4 linked regions of the Homo sapiens genome follow. The protein of the gene in region 3 binds, or shares a complex with, the protein of the main gene of each other region. Each region holds a gene or a part of one and is shown on either strand. Other genes may lie near its edges.

What was found. The genes of interacting proteins can lie anywhere in the genome.
Region 1: KAT5 (region 3) and RUVBL2 share a complex: the UniProt entries of both Homo sapiens proteins name them as parts of the SWR1-like complex.
Region 2: KAT5 (region 3) and VPS72 share a complex: the UniProt entries of both Homo sapiens proteins name them as parts of the nuA4 histone acetyltransferase complex.
Region 4: KAT5 (region 3) and EPC1 share a complex: the UniProt entries of both Homo sapiens proteins name them as parts of the nuA4 histone acetyltransferase complex.

The regions. Positions count from the first base shown.
Region 1 is NC_000019.10:49,012,707-49,016,470, reverse strand, and holds the end of RUVBL2 (ruvB-like 2), read right to left. Parts: intron 1,988-3,764; coding exon 1,868-1,987; intron 1,451-1,867; coding exon 1,321-1,450; intron 900-1,320; coding exon 785-899; intron 655-784; coding exon 629-654; 3' UTR 501-628; downstream 1-500. Other genes in the region: LHB (lutropin subunit beta), read left to right, coding at 161-403. UniProt on the Homo sapiens protein: Possesses single-stranded DNA-stimulated ATPase and ATP-dependent DNA helicase (5' to 3') activity; hexamerization is thought to be critical for ATP hydrolysis and adjacent subunits in the ring-like structure contribute to the ATPase activity.
Region 2 is NC_000001.11:151,187,398-151,192,501, forward strand, and holds the start of VPS72 (vacuolar protein sorting-associated protein 72 homolog), read right to left. Parts: upstream 2,801-5,104; 5' UTR 2,725-2,800; coding exon 2,608-2,724; intron 1-2,607. UniProt on the Homo sapiens protein: Deposition-and-exchange histone chaperone specific for H2AZ1, specifically chaperones H2AZ1 and deposits it into nucleosomes.
Region 3 is NC_000011.10:65,715,252-65,717,778, forward strand, and holds part of KAT5 (histone acetyltransferase KAT5), read left to right. Parts: intron 1-1,415; coding exon 1,416-1,556; intron 1,557-1,637; coding exon 1,638-1,731; coding exon of another isoform or gene 1,732-1,735; intron 1,736-2,421; exon of another isoform or gene 2,422-2,527. UniProt on the Homo sapiens protein: Catalytic subunit of the NuA4 histone acetyltransferase complex, a multiprotein complex involved in transcriptional activation of select genes principally by acetylation of nucleosomal histones H2A and H4.
Region 4 is NC_000010.11:32,267,251-32,271,676, reverse strand, and holds the end of EPC1 (enhancer of polycomb homolog 1), read left to right. Parts: coding exon 1-123; intron 124-2,541; coding exon 2,542-2,614; 3' UTR 2,615-3,926; downstream 3,927-4,426. UniProt on the Homo sapiens protein: Component of the NuA4 histone acetyltransferase (HAT) complex, a multiprotein complex involved in transcriptional activation of select genes principally by acetylation of nucleosomal histones H4 and H2A.

The DNA of each region.
Region 1 (3,764 bases), on a different chromosome or scaffold from region 3:
GTCTGCCTCTCTGGCCTGCGGTTGGGGAATGGGGTGTGGGAAGGCAGGAACAGAGGGCTTCCTGGGCTCCTGAGTCCAGGACCTGTGGGGTCAGCTTGGGAGCTCAGCTGAGGCGCTGGCCTCAGGCACATGCTCATTCCCCCACTCACACGGCCTCCAGATGCGCGTGCTGCAGGCGGTCCTGCCGCCCCTGCCTCAGGTGGTGTGCACCTACCGTGATGTGCGCTTCGAGTCCATCCGGCTCCCTGGCTGCCCGCGTGGTGTGGACCCCGTGGTCTCCTTCCCTGTGGCTCTCAGCTGTCGCTGTGGACCCTGCCGCCGCAGCACCTCTGACTGTGGGGGTCCCAAAGACCACCCCTTGACCTGTGACCACCCCCAACTCTCAGGCCTCCTCTTCCTCTAAAGACCCTCCCCGCAGCCTTCCAAGTCCATCCCGACTCCTGGAGCCCTGACACCCCGATCCTCCCACAATAAAGGCTTCTCAATCCGCACTCTGGAGGTGTCTTTCTGTGGGCTCAGGGCAACCACACATACACAGGGTGGGTGCAGCTTCCCAACCATTTTATACAGAGTCACAGTGTCAGAACTCTGGTGGAAAACAGGGTGGGGTCGGGGGATGACATCCAACTCAGGAGGTGTCCATGGTCTCGCCTTCTGTGGGGAGAAGGAAGGCCACATGGTCAGTGTCGCCCAGGTGGCAGGGCCTGAGCCTTCTACGCCGAGCTCCCTCTTCCTCCCTCTGAGGTTGGCTCTGGCAGTGCAGGTGCGGGGTGGGGATTCTTACTGAGTTCGTTGAAGAGGAAGGCGTCCTGGTACTCCTTCATGTACTGCGTGGAGCGGGACTCGTCCAGGAAGAGTGAGTAGACCCGCTTGATGTCATCCACCTGCACTTCTGTACCCTGGAGGGGGAGGGCGAGTCCTCAGTTGGGCCCCTCTCCGTGAGGCTCAAGGCACAGACCCCAGCGTATGCCACCTCCATGCTCTAGGCAGCAGAGTGTGGCATGTGAGGGGAGGGCATTCTGGGCCAGATTGCCTGGGTTCAAATCCTGCCTGGCCATCTCCTTGTTGTGGGCCCAGCCTCTTCATTCCTCAGTTTCTTTATCTGTAAGGTGGACCTAACAGCATCTACTTAAGTCAAGAGAGATTTACTGATACCTACTATAGGCCAGGCTGGATGATACAGAAGCCAACCTGAGGGATGAAAATTCCCTGCGTCTGAAAACGTACATTCTAGGATGAAATCGGAACCCTGGAAGCCCCTGAAGTACTGTGTCACTCACTGCCGCCATCTGGCCCTGCTGGCTAATTCGGCCGGCTGACCTTGCGTTTCCGGCACACCAAGCTGGCAGCTGTGATGAGCTGGATGGCGTAGCGCAGTGACGTCTCCAGCCCGATGCGGGTCAGCACCGTGTAGGCGTCCTCACTCATCTCCACATCTTCTTCCTCGCACCTGCAAGCAGTGGGGGACAGGGGTGGCTCAGCCGGGGCCCAGCCTCTGACTGCAGCAGAAGTGGCCACAGCAACCCTCTGGCCCTTCCCCACTGGGAATATGTGGCGCCTGCATCTTAGAACCATAGAATGCTGAGGCTAGAAGAGCCACGGAGACAGGGGCTGGGCTGGACCTAAAACCGAGGCCTCCTGACCACCCCCAGGGCGCTGGCCCCAACACCAGTCACGGGTACCTCGCCTCCCTTTCCCACCGTGGCTCCTGCTCCCGGATCGGAGGCCACCGTCTGGGTGCCCGCTCAGCCCTCTCTCCTGTAGGCCCAGCCACCATGCCACTCCGCTGGACCTCAGTGTCAGCATTTGTCAAACAGGGTAGACCCCAGCCCTGCGTCTCAGGCGCACGGCCTGGTCCTGCCCGCACCGGATGCGGAGGATCTGCTTCGTGTCTTTCTCGCTGTAGGGGGTGGTGGAGACGATAAGCAGCCGGTCCAGCAGGTCTATGGGGATGCCGTGAGGGCTCTGGTAGCTGGTGCCCCGGATTCTGAGGAAGAGGCAGAAAGAGGGGGCTGTCAGGGGCATGTTCCCTCTTCATTCCCTTTGCTGGGAACACTCTCACCTCCCATCGCCACCCACTCACTGGGCCCAACACCACTTAACCTTTAGCTCGCGTCTCCTGTCACATGATGACATCACCCCTGATGACGCAGCCTTCCACAGCTGCGTCAGTCCCCCAAGGGCACCTTTCCGCGGAGCTGGGCTGCTTTAAGCTAGATCTCTGCCTCCAGGATTACTGGATCAAGGTCCCACTCCCGTGCTCGACACAAAGCTTCACAAAGGAGGGGACTGCACCTGTCTTGTTCCCTGCTGCAGCGGGGCCAGCCCAGGGCTGGTGCCAGGGGATACAGTCAGTTCCCCTTATTCACAGTAGTGAGGTTCTAGAAAGTCATCGTGAACACTCCAATTAGCTGATCCTGAGCCACTGCTCCTACTGGAATACAGGGTTAGGCTCTCTCGAGCCTCGGCTTACAGTATTTTCATCAATCCATATATATATAATCTGGGTCTATGCGTATTTTCATTTGTGTGTTTCTGGTCTTTTTGGTTTGTTTTTTGAGACGGAGTCTCGCTCTGTTGCGAGGCTGGAGTGCAGTGGCGCGATCTCGGCTCACTGCAACCTCCGCCTCCCGGGTTCAACCGATCCTCCTGCCTCAGCCTCCCAAGTAGCTGGGTCTACAGGCGCACGCCATCACGCCCAGCTAGTTTTTTCTATTTTTAATACAGACAGGGTTTCACCATGTTGGCCGGGACGGTCTCATTCTCTTGACCTCGTGATCCACCCACCTCGGCCTCCCAAAGTGCTGGGATTACAGGTGTGAGCTACCGCGCCTGGCCTCATGTATGTGTGTTTCTATTTCCATGTGTTTGTTATGTAACATCACTGTTTATTCTCTAACATGGAGCTCGTGTCAACAGCATTCTAACTTGGGCTCAGCGAAGCGTCTGTAACATGGCATTTTCTCCGTCAGGCTTCACAGCCTCCTTGCACTTAGGATACTAGACAGCACTTCAACACTGTGCACAGGGGACACTTTAAATGGCAATATCACCAACAAATGGCCCCAAAAAGTTTAAAAAAAAAAGGCACAAAAAAAGTGACAACACTTTGGGAGGCTGAGGCGGGTGGATTGCTTGAGCCCAGGAGTTTGAGACCAGCCTGGGCAACATGGCAAAACACCATCTCTACAAAAAAAAAAAAAAAATTAGGCCGGACGCGGTGACTCACCCCTGTAATCTCAACACTTTGGGAGGCTGAGGTGGGCAGATCACGAGGTCAGGAGTTCGAGACCAGCCTGGCCAATATGGTGAAACCCTGTCTCTACTAAAAATACCAAAATTAGCTGGGCATGGTGGCGGGTGCCCATAATCCCAGCTACTCAGGAGGCTGAGGCAGGAAAACTGCTTGAACCCAGAAGGCAGAGGTTGCAGTGAGCCGAGATCGTGCCACTGCACTCCAGCCTGGTGACAGAGCTAGACTCCGTCTCAAAACAAAAACAGAAATTAGCTAGGCATAGTGGTGCATGCCCGTGGTCCCAGCTGATGAGGAGGCTGAGGCCAGAGGACTGATTGAGTCCCAGGGGTGGTGTGTGTGTGTGTGTGTGTGTGTGTGTGTGTGTGTGTGTGGTGGGCACTGAGGCTGCAGTGTGCCATGATCGTGCCTCTGCACTCCAGCCTGGGCGACAGAGCAAGACCCTGTCTCAAAGAACAAAAGTGACAAACGTAGCACTAAATAGAATACAACAAGGACACTTATTTACAGC
Region 2 (5,104 bases), on a different chromosome or scaffold from region 3:
CATCATTTCCTCCTAACTGATGTTTGTAAAAGACAGCCTGGGAACACATTAATCCCCTCAGCTTTAATCTGGTATTAAGCCATATCACCAGAGGGTAGTAGATCAACCACACATTAGCTTAGTGCCCAATCAACATACTTGCACTAAATTAAGGATTTACTACCATTCCTTCGGCTTTTATTGAGAGTCATTAAGAGACATCACTAGAAAAGAGAATGTTTGTATATCATCTATGAAAACCATTACTTTTTATAATATAAGGATATAATGATAAATGCTCCCTAGGATTTAAGGCTGAAAAAGTTTGTGTCTCTTGAAGAACTTGTATGCTTCTTTCTTACTAAAAAAAGAAATACAAGGTTTGGCTACCAGGAAGCTCACAACTAAATTTAATATCAATTGCTATTACCATTTTAGCAGAGGTTCCTGGTACAATTACTTCTGATCTGTCTCTATTTTTACTGTTCCTACTTTTTGTTTATATTGTAAGCCTCCTTAAATCCTTTTTGGAAGCATGAAGGGTACATATTAAATAACAAGTCGTAAAATGACAGAAATAGGAAAATGGCCTTAGAGGAGGGATGAGAAAGTTCTATTTTAAACTAGTTGGTTAGGGCTGTGTCAGTAATGACTCTGTCAGTGATGTGGGTTTTTTTTTTTTTTGAGACAGAGTCTCACTCTGTCGCCCAGGCTGGAGGGCAGTGGCGCAATCCACTGCAACCTCTGCCTCCTGGGTTCAAGTGATTCTCCTGCCTCAGCCTCCTAAGTAGCTGGAATTACAGGCACACGCCACCACAACCAGCTAATTTTTTGCATTTTTAGTAGTGACAGGGTTTCACCATGTTGGTCAGGCTGGTCTCGAACTCCTGACCTCGTGATCCACCCGCCTCAGCCTCCCAAAGTGCTGGAATTACAGGCGTGAGCCACCACACCCAGCCCCTAAGTCCTGTGGGTTCTATTCCTTAATTTCTCTTGAATCTTTCTGTTTCTCTACTGCCATGCCCCCTTCAAGCCATTCTCATTACAGAGTAAGTAACCTTCCTAAAGTACAAATTTCATCGTGGAATTCTGATGACTCTTCTCAGTCCTCTGGATGAAGAGCAAAATTCCTTAACATAGCTCACAAGGCCCTAAAGGATCTGGCCCATGCCTACTCCCTGCAGGCTTATCAATCTTTAGTCTCCTTCATGCTCTGGAGAATGAAAGTAGACTTGCAGGTCCTAGACCAGGATCTCAATGTCTTTACATACTCAGCCCATCCTGCTCTGTGGACTAACCTTTCTCCTTCTCCTGCTTTTCATCAAGCTAAGGTCTACTTTTCAAACTGTCCTCAGCTTAAACATCATCCCTCCAGGGATGCCTATCCTGATCAACAACTTTGGTTCAGATGTATTACCTTAACACTCTTACACCTTGTTTTAGTCCTTATCACACATTTTTTGTTTGTTTTTGAGACGGAGTCCTGCTCTGTCGCCCAGGCTGGAGTGCAGTGGTACGATCTCGGCTCACTGCAACCTCCTCCTCCCAGGTTCAAGCGATTCTCTGCCTCAGCCTCCTGAGTAGCTGGGACTATAGGCGCACACCACCACGCTTGGCTAATTTTTGTATTTTAATAGAGACAGGGGGTTTTACCATGTTGGCCAGGATGGTCTCGATTTCCTGACCTTGTGATCCACCCGCCTCGGCCTTCCAAAGTGCTGGGATTACAGGCGTGAGCCACTGTGCCCGGCCAAAGCCACTGTGCTCGGCCTATCACACAGTATTTTAACTGTTAACCCAGGCAGTTACCCCACTGGGGCATGGAGTATGTAAGGACAGAGCACTGTTTTTAATATTCTGTTTCCCTAGAGCCTAAAACAACCTATTACCGATGGCATGCTCTGGGTACTCAACACATTTAATAAACGGGTAGATTCAACTAATAAAAATTTAGCAAGTGGCAGCCCAGTCCGGACACCTCACACATAATGTTGAACAAAACAGACCATCTCTAACTTTATACAGTTTACAATGCAATAGAAAAGCATAAGCAAGTAAGCAAACCAAATCTAATTGCAAATTGAAATATGTTCTGTGGAAGAAATAAATGGGGACACTTGTTAGGATAGTCAAGGAAGGGTTATCTTCCTGAGAAAACATTTACACTGAGACCTGAAAGCTGAAAAAGAAGTGGGCTAAGCTCCTCTACTTTTGGAGCGGTTCCTTTCCATGTCTCAGGTGAATAATCCAGCAGTGGGCCAACGAGTATACATCGAGCAACTGTCTACTACTATGTGTGTGCCTCGTGTATGCTGGACGTCAGAAGTACAGTGAAAGATGCAACCACGCAAGTATACGGTAGGTTTCTGCCGTTCTCTGTTCTCTGGAGTGCCTCCGGAGAGCTTCTCCGTCTCAGGCCCCTTTGACCCCATCCAGAGCTCTCCCTTCTAGGACTCCACACTATCCGTTCCCCCGCCTCGCCCCCCGGCTCCGATTCACCCACCCAACTCGAGTATCAGCTCCCAGAGCTCCTCTCTATTCCCCGCCCTCTTCTTCTTTGTCCGGGGTTTCTCCCTTCAGGGCTCCTCTTTGCCTCCTCCCCTCCCTTTTCCCAGGCCCGGATCTTGCCTCTGTGAAACCCCCATAAGTCGTCTGGTAGAACTCATCTTCCTCCTCTGCCTCCAAAAGCCCAGAAAGCCGGTTCCCAGCGGTCTTCCGGGGTGCCCGGCCCCCAGCCAAACTCATACCGCCTACCGAGACTGCGCCGCCACCTGCAGCCCCTCACCAGCTCGGTTTTGGGAGCTCGACGCTCGACATCACTACCTGCGGGTGGCCACCAGCGGCGGAAGTCGGGCGTTTACAGGCAGAAGTAACAGAGTGTCGAGAGACTCCCAGTCCCACCCTCTAAACCCTCTTTACTCTTCAGCCTCTCCTACTCCTGCGCGGATGCTCTAGGCCGCTTGCTCTAGTACCCAGCGATCTCCCTTGCTCAATGAGTCCACTTGGTGGTACGAAGACCCCCATAACCCTAAGTCAACACATTTTATTTTATTTATTTTTATTTTATATATATATATGGTTTTTTTTTTCCGTAGGGACGGAGTCTCGCCTCGCTCTGTCGCCAGACTGGAGTGCAGTGGCACGATCTCGGCTCACTGCAACCTCCGTCCCCCGGGCTGAAGCGATTCTCCTGCCTCAGTCCCCCGAGTAGCTGGGATTACAGGCGCCCGCCACCATGCCCAACTAATTTTTGTATTTTTAGTAGAGACAGCTTTCACCGTGTTGGCCAGGCTGGTCTCGAACTCCTGACCTCAGGTGATCCGCCCGCTTCGGCCTCCCAAAGTGCTGGGATTACAGGCATAAGCCTGCGCCCCCAGCTCACATTTTCTTTTAGAAGAGGTCATTCTCTCCGCTCCAGTCCATTTTCTACACTGCTGCTAGTAGGAAACTTTCTAAAAACCCACGTTTTGCCACTCCTGTCCTCAAACATTTTTAATGGCTCCACATCATCTACAAGATAAAGTCAAAAATCCTTGAGGAAGGAAGCATAGTATTGTGGTTAAAAACACAGCCATAGACATTTATCCAAAGGAAAGGACATAATTCAACCTGAGGAAGCCAATTTAGGAGGAAAAAAAAAAAGGAAATCAGTATATCCAAGAGACGTCTGCACTCCATATTTATGCACCCCCATATTTATTGCAGCACTACTTAGAGTAGCCAAAATAGGAAATCAATCTCTGTGTCCAACAACAGATGAATAAAGGAAATAGGGTGTATATACACAATGGAATACTTTTCAGCCATTAAAAAGAAGAAAATCCTGTCATTTGCAGCAACATGGATGGAACTGGAGGACATGTTAACTGACTTAAGCCACGAACAGAAAGTTAAAACACTGCATGTTCTCACTCATATGTGACGCTTTTAAAAAGTTGATTTCATAGAAGTGAAAGAACAGAGGATACTGGAGGCTGGGAAGAGCAGGGGGAAGGAAGGGACAGGGAAAGATTTGTTAAAAGACACAAAATTGTGGCTCACACCTGTAATCCCAGCACTTTGGGAGGCCGAAGGGGGTGGATCATGAGGTCAGGAGTTCACGACCAGCCTGGCCAAGATGGCGAAACCCCATCTCTACTAAAAATACAAAAATTAGCTGGTCGTGGTGGTGGGCGCCTGTTATCCCAGATACTCGAGAGGCTGAGGCAGAGAATTGCTTGAACTCGGGAGGCGGAGGTTGCAGTGAGCCGAGATCGCGCCATTTGCTCTCCAGCCTGGGAAACAGAGCAAGACTCCGTCTCAGAAAAAAAAAAAAGACAAAATTGGGCCTGGCACAGTGGCTCACACCTGTAATCCCAGCACTTTGGGAGGCTGAAGCGGGCAGATCCCGAGGTCAAGAGATTGTGACCATCCTGGCCAACATGGTGAAACCCCGTATCTACTACAAATACAAAAATTAGCTGGGTGTGGTGGCGCGCACCTGTAGTCCCAGCTACTAGGGAGGCTGAGGCAGGAGAATCGCTTGAACCCGGGAGGCAGAGGTTGCAGTGAGCTGAGATTGTGCCACTGCACTCCAGCCTGGCAACAGAGCAAGACTCCATCTCAAAAGAAAAAAAAAAAAGACACAAAATTACAATTTTTTTTGAGACAGGGTCTCTATTGCCCAGGCTGGAGTGCAGCAGCAGGATCATGGCTCACTGCCTCCTTGACCTCCTGGGCTCAAGCTGTCCTCCCACCTTGGCTTCCAAAAGTGCTAGGATTACAGCTGTGAGCCACCACACTGGCCCCCAATTACATTTGTTTGTTCGTTTGTTTGTTTGTTTGAGATAGGATCTCACTTTGTCACCCAGGCTGGAATACAGTGATGCAATCACTGCTCACTGCAGTCTCGACCTCCTGGGTTCAAGTGATCATCGCACCTCAGCCTCGTGGGTAGCTGGAACTACAGGCTCGTGTCACCACGCCTGGCTAATTTTTTGTACTTTTTGTGGAGATGAGATTTCATCATGTTGCCCACGGTGATCACCTGAGCTCAAGTGATCCCCACTCCTCAGCCTCTCAATGTGCTGGGATTACAGGTGTGAGCCACCTCGCTTGGCCCCAAATTACATTTAGATAGGAGGAA
Region 3 (2,527 bases):
GCAGTGGTGTTCTGAAGAGTAGGCATGGATGCACAAAGGTGGTCTTTGTGAAAGGCAGAGATCATTCTGGTTGGGAGGCAGAAAAGGGAGGATGAGGGAAGGCTCGTACATGGGACAGAGCTTAGGTGATGAAGATGCTGTGTTAACCACCATTTTGTAATTATTAATGTGGACCTGGGCATCCAAGTGGCAGTACCCAGCAGCAGGCGGTTAAAAAGCAATTCCTGGGCTGGGCACGGTGGCTCACACCTGTAATCCCAGCACTTTGGGAGGCTGAGGCGGGCGGATCACAAGGTCAGGAGATCGAGACCATCCTGGCTAACACGGTTAAACCCTGTCTCTACTAAAAAGTACAAAAAATTAGCTGGGCGTGGTGGCGGGTGCCTGTAATCCCAGCTACTCGGGAGGCTGAGGCAGGAGAATGGCGTGAACCCAGGAGGCAGAGTTTGCAGTGAGCCGAGATTGCACCACTGCATTCCAGCCTGGGAGACAGCAAGACTTCGTGTAAAAAAAATAAATAAATAAAAAGCAATTTCTGGCTGGGCACAGTGGCTCATACCTGTAACCCCAGCACTTTGGGAGGCCAAGGTGGGCCAATCACTTGAGCCCAGAATTTCGAGACCAGCCTGGGCAACATGGAGAAACCCCCAGGTACTCGGGAGGCTGAGTTGGGAGAATCACCTGAGCCTGGGAAGTCAAGGCTGCAGTGACCCACGATTGCATGATTGCACCACTGCACTCCAGCCTGGGTGACAGGAGTGAGACCCTGTGTCAAAAAAAAAAAAAAAAAACCCACAATGTCTGAAATGCAGGAGAAATCGTGTGCAGAAGTAAAGCAGCAGGATTCATAATTTTGCTGGGGTAAACCCTAAGGCAGTTATTTTGTTAAATTCCAGAATTCCTTAACTCTGTTGTAGAGTAGCAGATCAGTTCCCAGGAGGTGTGACTGTGGATGTAGAATGTTAGGTTTTTTAACAGCTAGACTCCCAAGACTGTTAGATAGGGAGTCAGTGGTCAGAGTCTCACTTTGGACACATTAGTTTGAGGAGCCGTGGTCAGAGTCTCACTTTGGACACATTAGTTCGTTGGCTGCTGTTAAAAAACATTAAAAGGCAGTGGTCTCTCCTGGTCAGGCTTAGAATGGAGGTGTGCGGAGCAAGGCGGGAAACTTGCCTGACTGAGCAGGGAGGCACTCAGACACCATCACACATCTGGCACACAGGCTTTTCAACACTGAGGAGCAGCCCTGCCTAAGCTGCGGGCTGGTGGAGTGGGTCAGGCCCAGCCAGGGAAGAACACTCATCACCTAGCAGCCTGGGGCATAGCACGAACAGTGAAGCTCCTGGTTGACCCTGAACCACTGGCCAGGCTCAAGGCGGGATACCCAGAGTGGTGACAAGCCTTTTCTCTTGCAGAGTTATTCCCAGAACCTGTGTCTTTTGGCCAAGTGTTTCCTTGACCATAAGACACTGTACTATGACACAGACCCTTTCCTCTTCTACGTCATGACAGAGTATGACTGTAAGGGCTTCCACATCGTGGGCTACTTCTCCAAGGTCAGTGCCTGCCCAAGCTGTCCCTGTGCCCTGTCCTGAGCCAGATCCCTTCCCTGACACTCACCTGTCCCCCTTCTCCAGGAGAAAGAATCAACGGAAGACTACAATGTGGCCTGCATCCTAACCCTGCCTCCCTACCAGCGCCGGGGCTACGGCAAGCTGCTGATCGAGTTCAGTGAGTATGTGTGCTGCGGCCAGGGGGTAGTGGACCCACTATCGGTGCCTCACAGGCAGATGGGCCAGGCTACTGTGATTCTCAACCCTGGCTGTGCAGCCCAGCCTCTAGGGGAACCAGCCAGAAATAACAGTGGCACTCTCCCGGGGTTCTCTCCGTTCAGGCTGACTGCCCTGCTTATCTGGGGTAGGTTCTCAGCCCCCCAGTTTGCTCCTTGGCCAGGGTTCTAAGTGCCACTCAGCTTTCCCCAAATCTGACTTACGTGCTCCTGCCTGGAGCCATGGGCAGAAGGTTAGTGAGCCGCTGGTGCTGATGTATCTGGTAACGTGTGCCATGATACGAGTACTGGGGCAAGGACCAGTGGCTAATGTCCCCAGTTGTCCCCTGAGCCTTGCAGGCAGGTATCCAAAATGCTGTCAGCAGATAGACATAAGCATGTTGTCCCTCGCTCCTTGTGTCCAGTGAGGTCAGTCTCTTAAAGCCAGAAGGGACTCTGAACTTCATCACACATGGGCTCTTCAGTGCCCTCCCCAACCCTGAGGCCCCTTCTTCCCAGCCTCTTACTCCCCATCACCCCCCATTCTGTCTGTCTCACCACTCACTTGGAATAACCAAGCTCTGACCTGAGAAACAAGGAGGAAGTTCTAGCTGTTGACCTGGTGAAGACACAGAGGCTTTACCTGATCAAGGTTATGGTCCATTCGAGAAATTTTATTGGTTAAATGATGCCCAGATGGGGTCACATCCTCAGAACTTCTCAGCCTGGTAGCACAAGTGGATGCTTGAAGAAACTCAG
Region 4 (4,426 bases), on a different chromosome or scaffold from region 3:
AAATGCACGACATATACCTAGGACTTTAAGTGCTGTTCCATCATCTGCCTTAAAGCTGGCCGCTGCAGCAAACTGTCAAGTTTCCAAGGTCCCATCTTCATCCTCTGTAGATTCAGTTCCAAGGTGAGTAGTTATTTTTGCCTAACATACCTGGAATAAGAGATCTAACTTCAGTCCTCCAGCATCGTTCTTTACCTATTTCTTTGTGTTTCTTGTTCTTTTCCTTTTATACATTGAAAATGTATAGTTGAGAATTGATCACTTATTTATTCAAGAACTAAACAGTTCTTGAACACTTAATTCAATATTAAGAATTTGAACTAACTGGTATAGTGAATGTTGCATATATGATTTGGAACATCCCTTTCTTACTATAACAATAGTTATACCAGGTGCAGTGGCTCACGCCTGTAATCCTAGCACTTTGGGAGGCAGAGGCAGGCAGATCACCTAAGGTCAGGAGTTCGAGAACAGCCGATCCAACATGGTGAAAGGCCACCTCTACTAAAAATACAAAATCACCCGGGCATGGTGGCGCATGCCTGTAATCTCAGCTACTCAGGAGGCTGAGGCAGGAGAATCGCTTGAACCTGGGAGGTGGAGGTTGCAACCAAGATCGCACCATTGCACTCTGGCCAGGGCAACAAGAGCTAAACTCTGTCTCAAAAAAAAAAAAAAGCGTATAATGCTCTCAGTTTTCTTCCGTCTTTGGATGGAAGGAGTTCTCCTGAGAGCGTTTCTTTTATGACTTTTTTTCCACAGCTTCTCATGTAAACAGGTAGAATTGATAGAAACCCCTGCCCCATCACTGGTATGCTAAGCTATTCTTTTTTTTTTTTTTTTTTTTTTTTTTTTGAGACCGAGTCTCGCTCTGTTGCCCAGGCTGGAGTGCAGTGGCACAATCTCAGCTCACTGCAATCTCTGCCTCCCAGGTTCAAGTGATTCTGTCTCAGCCTTCTGAGTAGATGGGATTACAGGCATACACCGCGATGCCTGGCTAATTTTTGCATTTTTAGCAGGGACGGGGTTTCACCATGTTGGCCATGCTAGTCTTGAACCCCTGACCTCAGGTGGTCAGCCTGCCTTGGCCTCCCAAAGTGCTGGAATTACAGGCATGAGCCACCACGCCCGGCGTTAAGCTATTCTTATTAATGTAAAGACTTACAGTATTCATGCCAGGTCAACTCTAAATTGAACCATTATTTTTTGTGCTAACTTGCCGTCTTGGATTTCAGTAGACAGTTGAGAATTTTGCTTATGCTCTATTATGTTGTAGAATTAAGGGTAGTTAAAATCCTGCTGTCTACAAGGTACTGTGGGAGAAACAAAAGAAAAAGACAGGTGTTTTCAGTTTAGTTAGCAGACAAGCATAAAAGAGTGAGAAGTCCAATAATGCTAATTGTAGATATCACAAAGCATTATATACTTGTTAAATTAATTGTATAGATGATGGCTGTAATTCAGTATAAGGAGAAATCTTTTTTTGCACAGGGAATTCTGGGACTCTTCTAACAAAATAAGATCAGATCCAATCTGTGTTAGTCTTCGGGCAAAGAGGAGAAAGAAAAAGCATTTCTGGCAGGTGGAGTGAAATACAAATTTGAGGCTGAGTGAAAATACAAAGTTGAGGAAATACAAGTGTTTAGAAGTTAACAAGTAAACTGGTTTTTGTATAGGCTCAGGAAGGTTAGTAGTTTAAATTGGAATGGCAGGAGAAGCCATTCCAGATTCCTGGAGCACTTTAAATGCCAGACTGGTAGACTGTCTCAGCCAGGAGTGGCCCAGAAGAAAGCAGGGTTTGTAGCAATGAACTGTGGCCTGTAGTTTCCAAACCATGCATCTGCATCTGCTTCTGAATTTAAGTAACAGTCATTGTCTGCTTAATGCCAATCCATTCTTAATAGTATTCTGGGTCTAATTATATAGCTCATCTGTCAGCTATAGTTCTGACTCATATCATGATTTTACTGCTCTAGAATTGTTTAACCATGGAATATTTGCCATGTATAGAATTTTCATATCACATGTCCTTTTGTTTTTAAAGATGAAGAAACTGAGACGCAGAGAAGTTAATGTATTTCTCTAAGGACACTCAAAAGTCTAGACTGTAGAACCACTAGGGCCCTCGAGCTCTGTGGCTGTGCCACTCAGCTCCATGTATTAGACTGATTTAAAGCCTGACACAAATCTCAGTTATGTTTGTTTCCTTTTTAAAAACTCTTTTGAAAGGTTTAATAGAGAAGGAACTTGAAACAACAATTACTAAAACATGGGAATTCTTTGTTTTTAACATCTAGGTTGCTTGAGTACTACTATAATTTTGATGGTAATGTAGTTGACTGTGGAATTTATTTATAGTCAACATTAGCCTGATTTCTGATAATAAACTATAAAGATTCGTATTCCTCTACTTGCTAGCTTGTTCCCAAAGAGTCCAATTTCTTCCTGTTAATAAAAATAAACTTTTTGTTGGGAAGATAATGTTCATTTGCTGAATATTTATGTTGTAGATAAGTAATTGATTGAACTTTATTTCAACAGGGAAAATCATGAATCAGAAAAGCCAGCACTGAACAACATAGCAGACAACACAGTAGCGATGGAGGTGACGTAGCTTCCTCCGAGTGGAACTGCAGCCTGGGGACTTGATTAGGTGCTATGCATCAGTAGCATTTTGAATGCAAGGGATGATGGAAAGCAGCACATGCGTTTCTGTGGCAGCTGTGGGGACTTGACAGCAATGCTCATCTCTCATGCTTCAATTTTTCTTTTCTTACTGTTAATAGGAAAAAAATCAACATCTGTAAATTAAGAATACAGCAATTATCTGTACAGTACTGCATATTTGTAATACCCTTGTATATATGTTACTTGAATACAGAAATGTTCATTTGTGATGCTTTGCACTTGGGGGTGGGGGGTGGGAGGGAAATCAATTGCAACAAAGAGTGTGAGATGTGAGATTGTATAGAGATGAAGTGTCATCACATCATGTGCATGGTGCGGAACCTGCTGTTTTATCTATTTATTGTGCCGTGTTTACAGTTTTTTGTACACTGTACCTTCATTGGTTCCTGTGCTGTAGTAAATGTGTTAGGTAGCTGTGGACTCCTTGGTATTTTGTAAATGGTATAACATAACTTGGTTCCCCTCTGGGTCCTTGAGTTTTCTGTGTATCATGTGAAAAAAAATGGTGACATACATACAGAATTTTACAAAAAAAAAAAAAAAAAAAAAGGCATCAGTTTTTTTAAAAATGGGGAATGTACTATTAAATGGGGATCTTCCTGGTCTACTATCATTAGGACAAGTAACAAGCTAAAAATGAAGTCTCTTGAATCTTTCCATCCCCAACTTGCCCACAAAGCTGTGGGTGGTTTCTGGTACTTAAAGCACTAATATTATGTTGCTGCTCTGCGAACAGCCCAGTAGTCCCATTTCCTTCCACACCAAAAAGTGTTAAATCAAGTATGCAAATGGAGTCCTTACAACTGGAGTTTATGTTGTCTTGCCCTTTTTTTAGCACAAAAAAAATTGTACTTTTTTATTGTCGAATTGTTTAAAAGACTTCATTCTTTACTTGTTCTTACGAAAAGGATATAAGGGAGAAGAATGCAGTAATTGCTGTACGTGTATCATCATTCCAGTTTCTAAAAACAGCCAGCCAGCTTTTTTCCTTTTAAGATTCTCCAGAAGGCTGCAAGGCCAGAACCACAAATATCGGGTGCCTTCCTTTGGAAATATTTGACCTCTCTTCTGTGAAGAGAATGGTACTTAACAGACTACTACTAGTGCTTTGTCAGTACCGAAGTCTGAATGCCCAGTCCAATGGCATACATTATCCTTAAGGTTTTTAATCCCACCTGGAAAAATTGTGATAGAATTCTCACAAAATAAACCCAGGGCATTACATGTTGACAAACTAATGTGTAGTGGTCTTTTGCTTTTGTTTTCAACCCAAGAACCTCTGTGTGACTTATATTAGAATCATTCCATAAAGGAGGGGATGGAAATGGGGGGTGATGACTTTAAGTTCATTTTCTTCAACAGTTACTTACTGAATGACTGCAATGCCTGGGACCACTTTAGGTCCTACAACTGTGGGGAAAATAATTCCTGCCCTCATGGAGCTTATACTCTCATAGGGGGAAAATAAATAAATAAATGCATTTAAAATATATTACGACCAGTATTTGGAAGAAAAGTGAAGGAAGGGAACAAACAGTGCCCGGGAAGGCTGGAGGTTGCAGTTTCAAGTAGGGTGGTCAAGGAAGGGCCCACAGGCAGTTATGTTTCATCAGAGACTGGAAGTTAAGGAAAAATATTCCAGGCAGAGAGAAGTACAGAGATCCCGAGGTGGTAGTGTGTCTACTGCACTGGATAACACCGCCAGGGCTGGAGGGAGCTGGGGTAGGGCGTGTCGGCC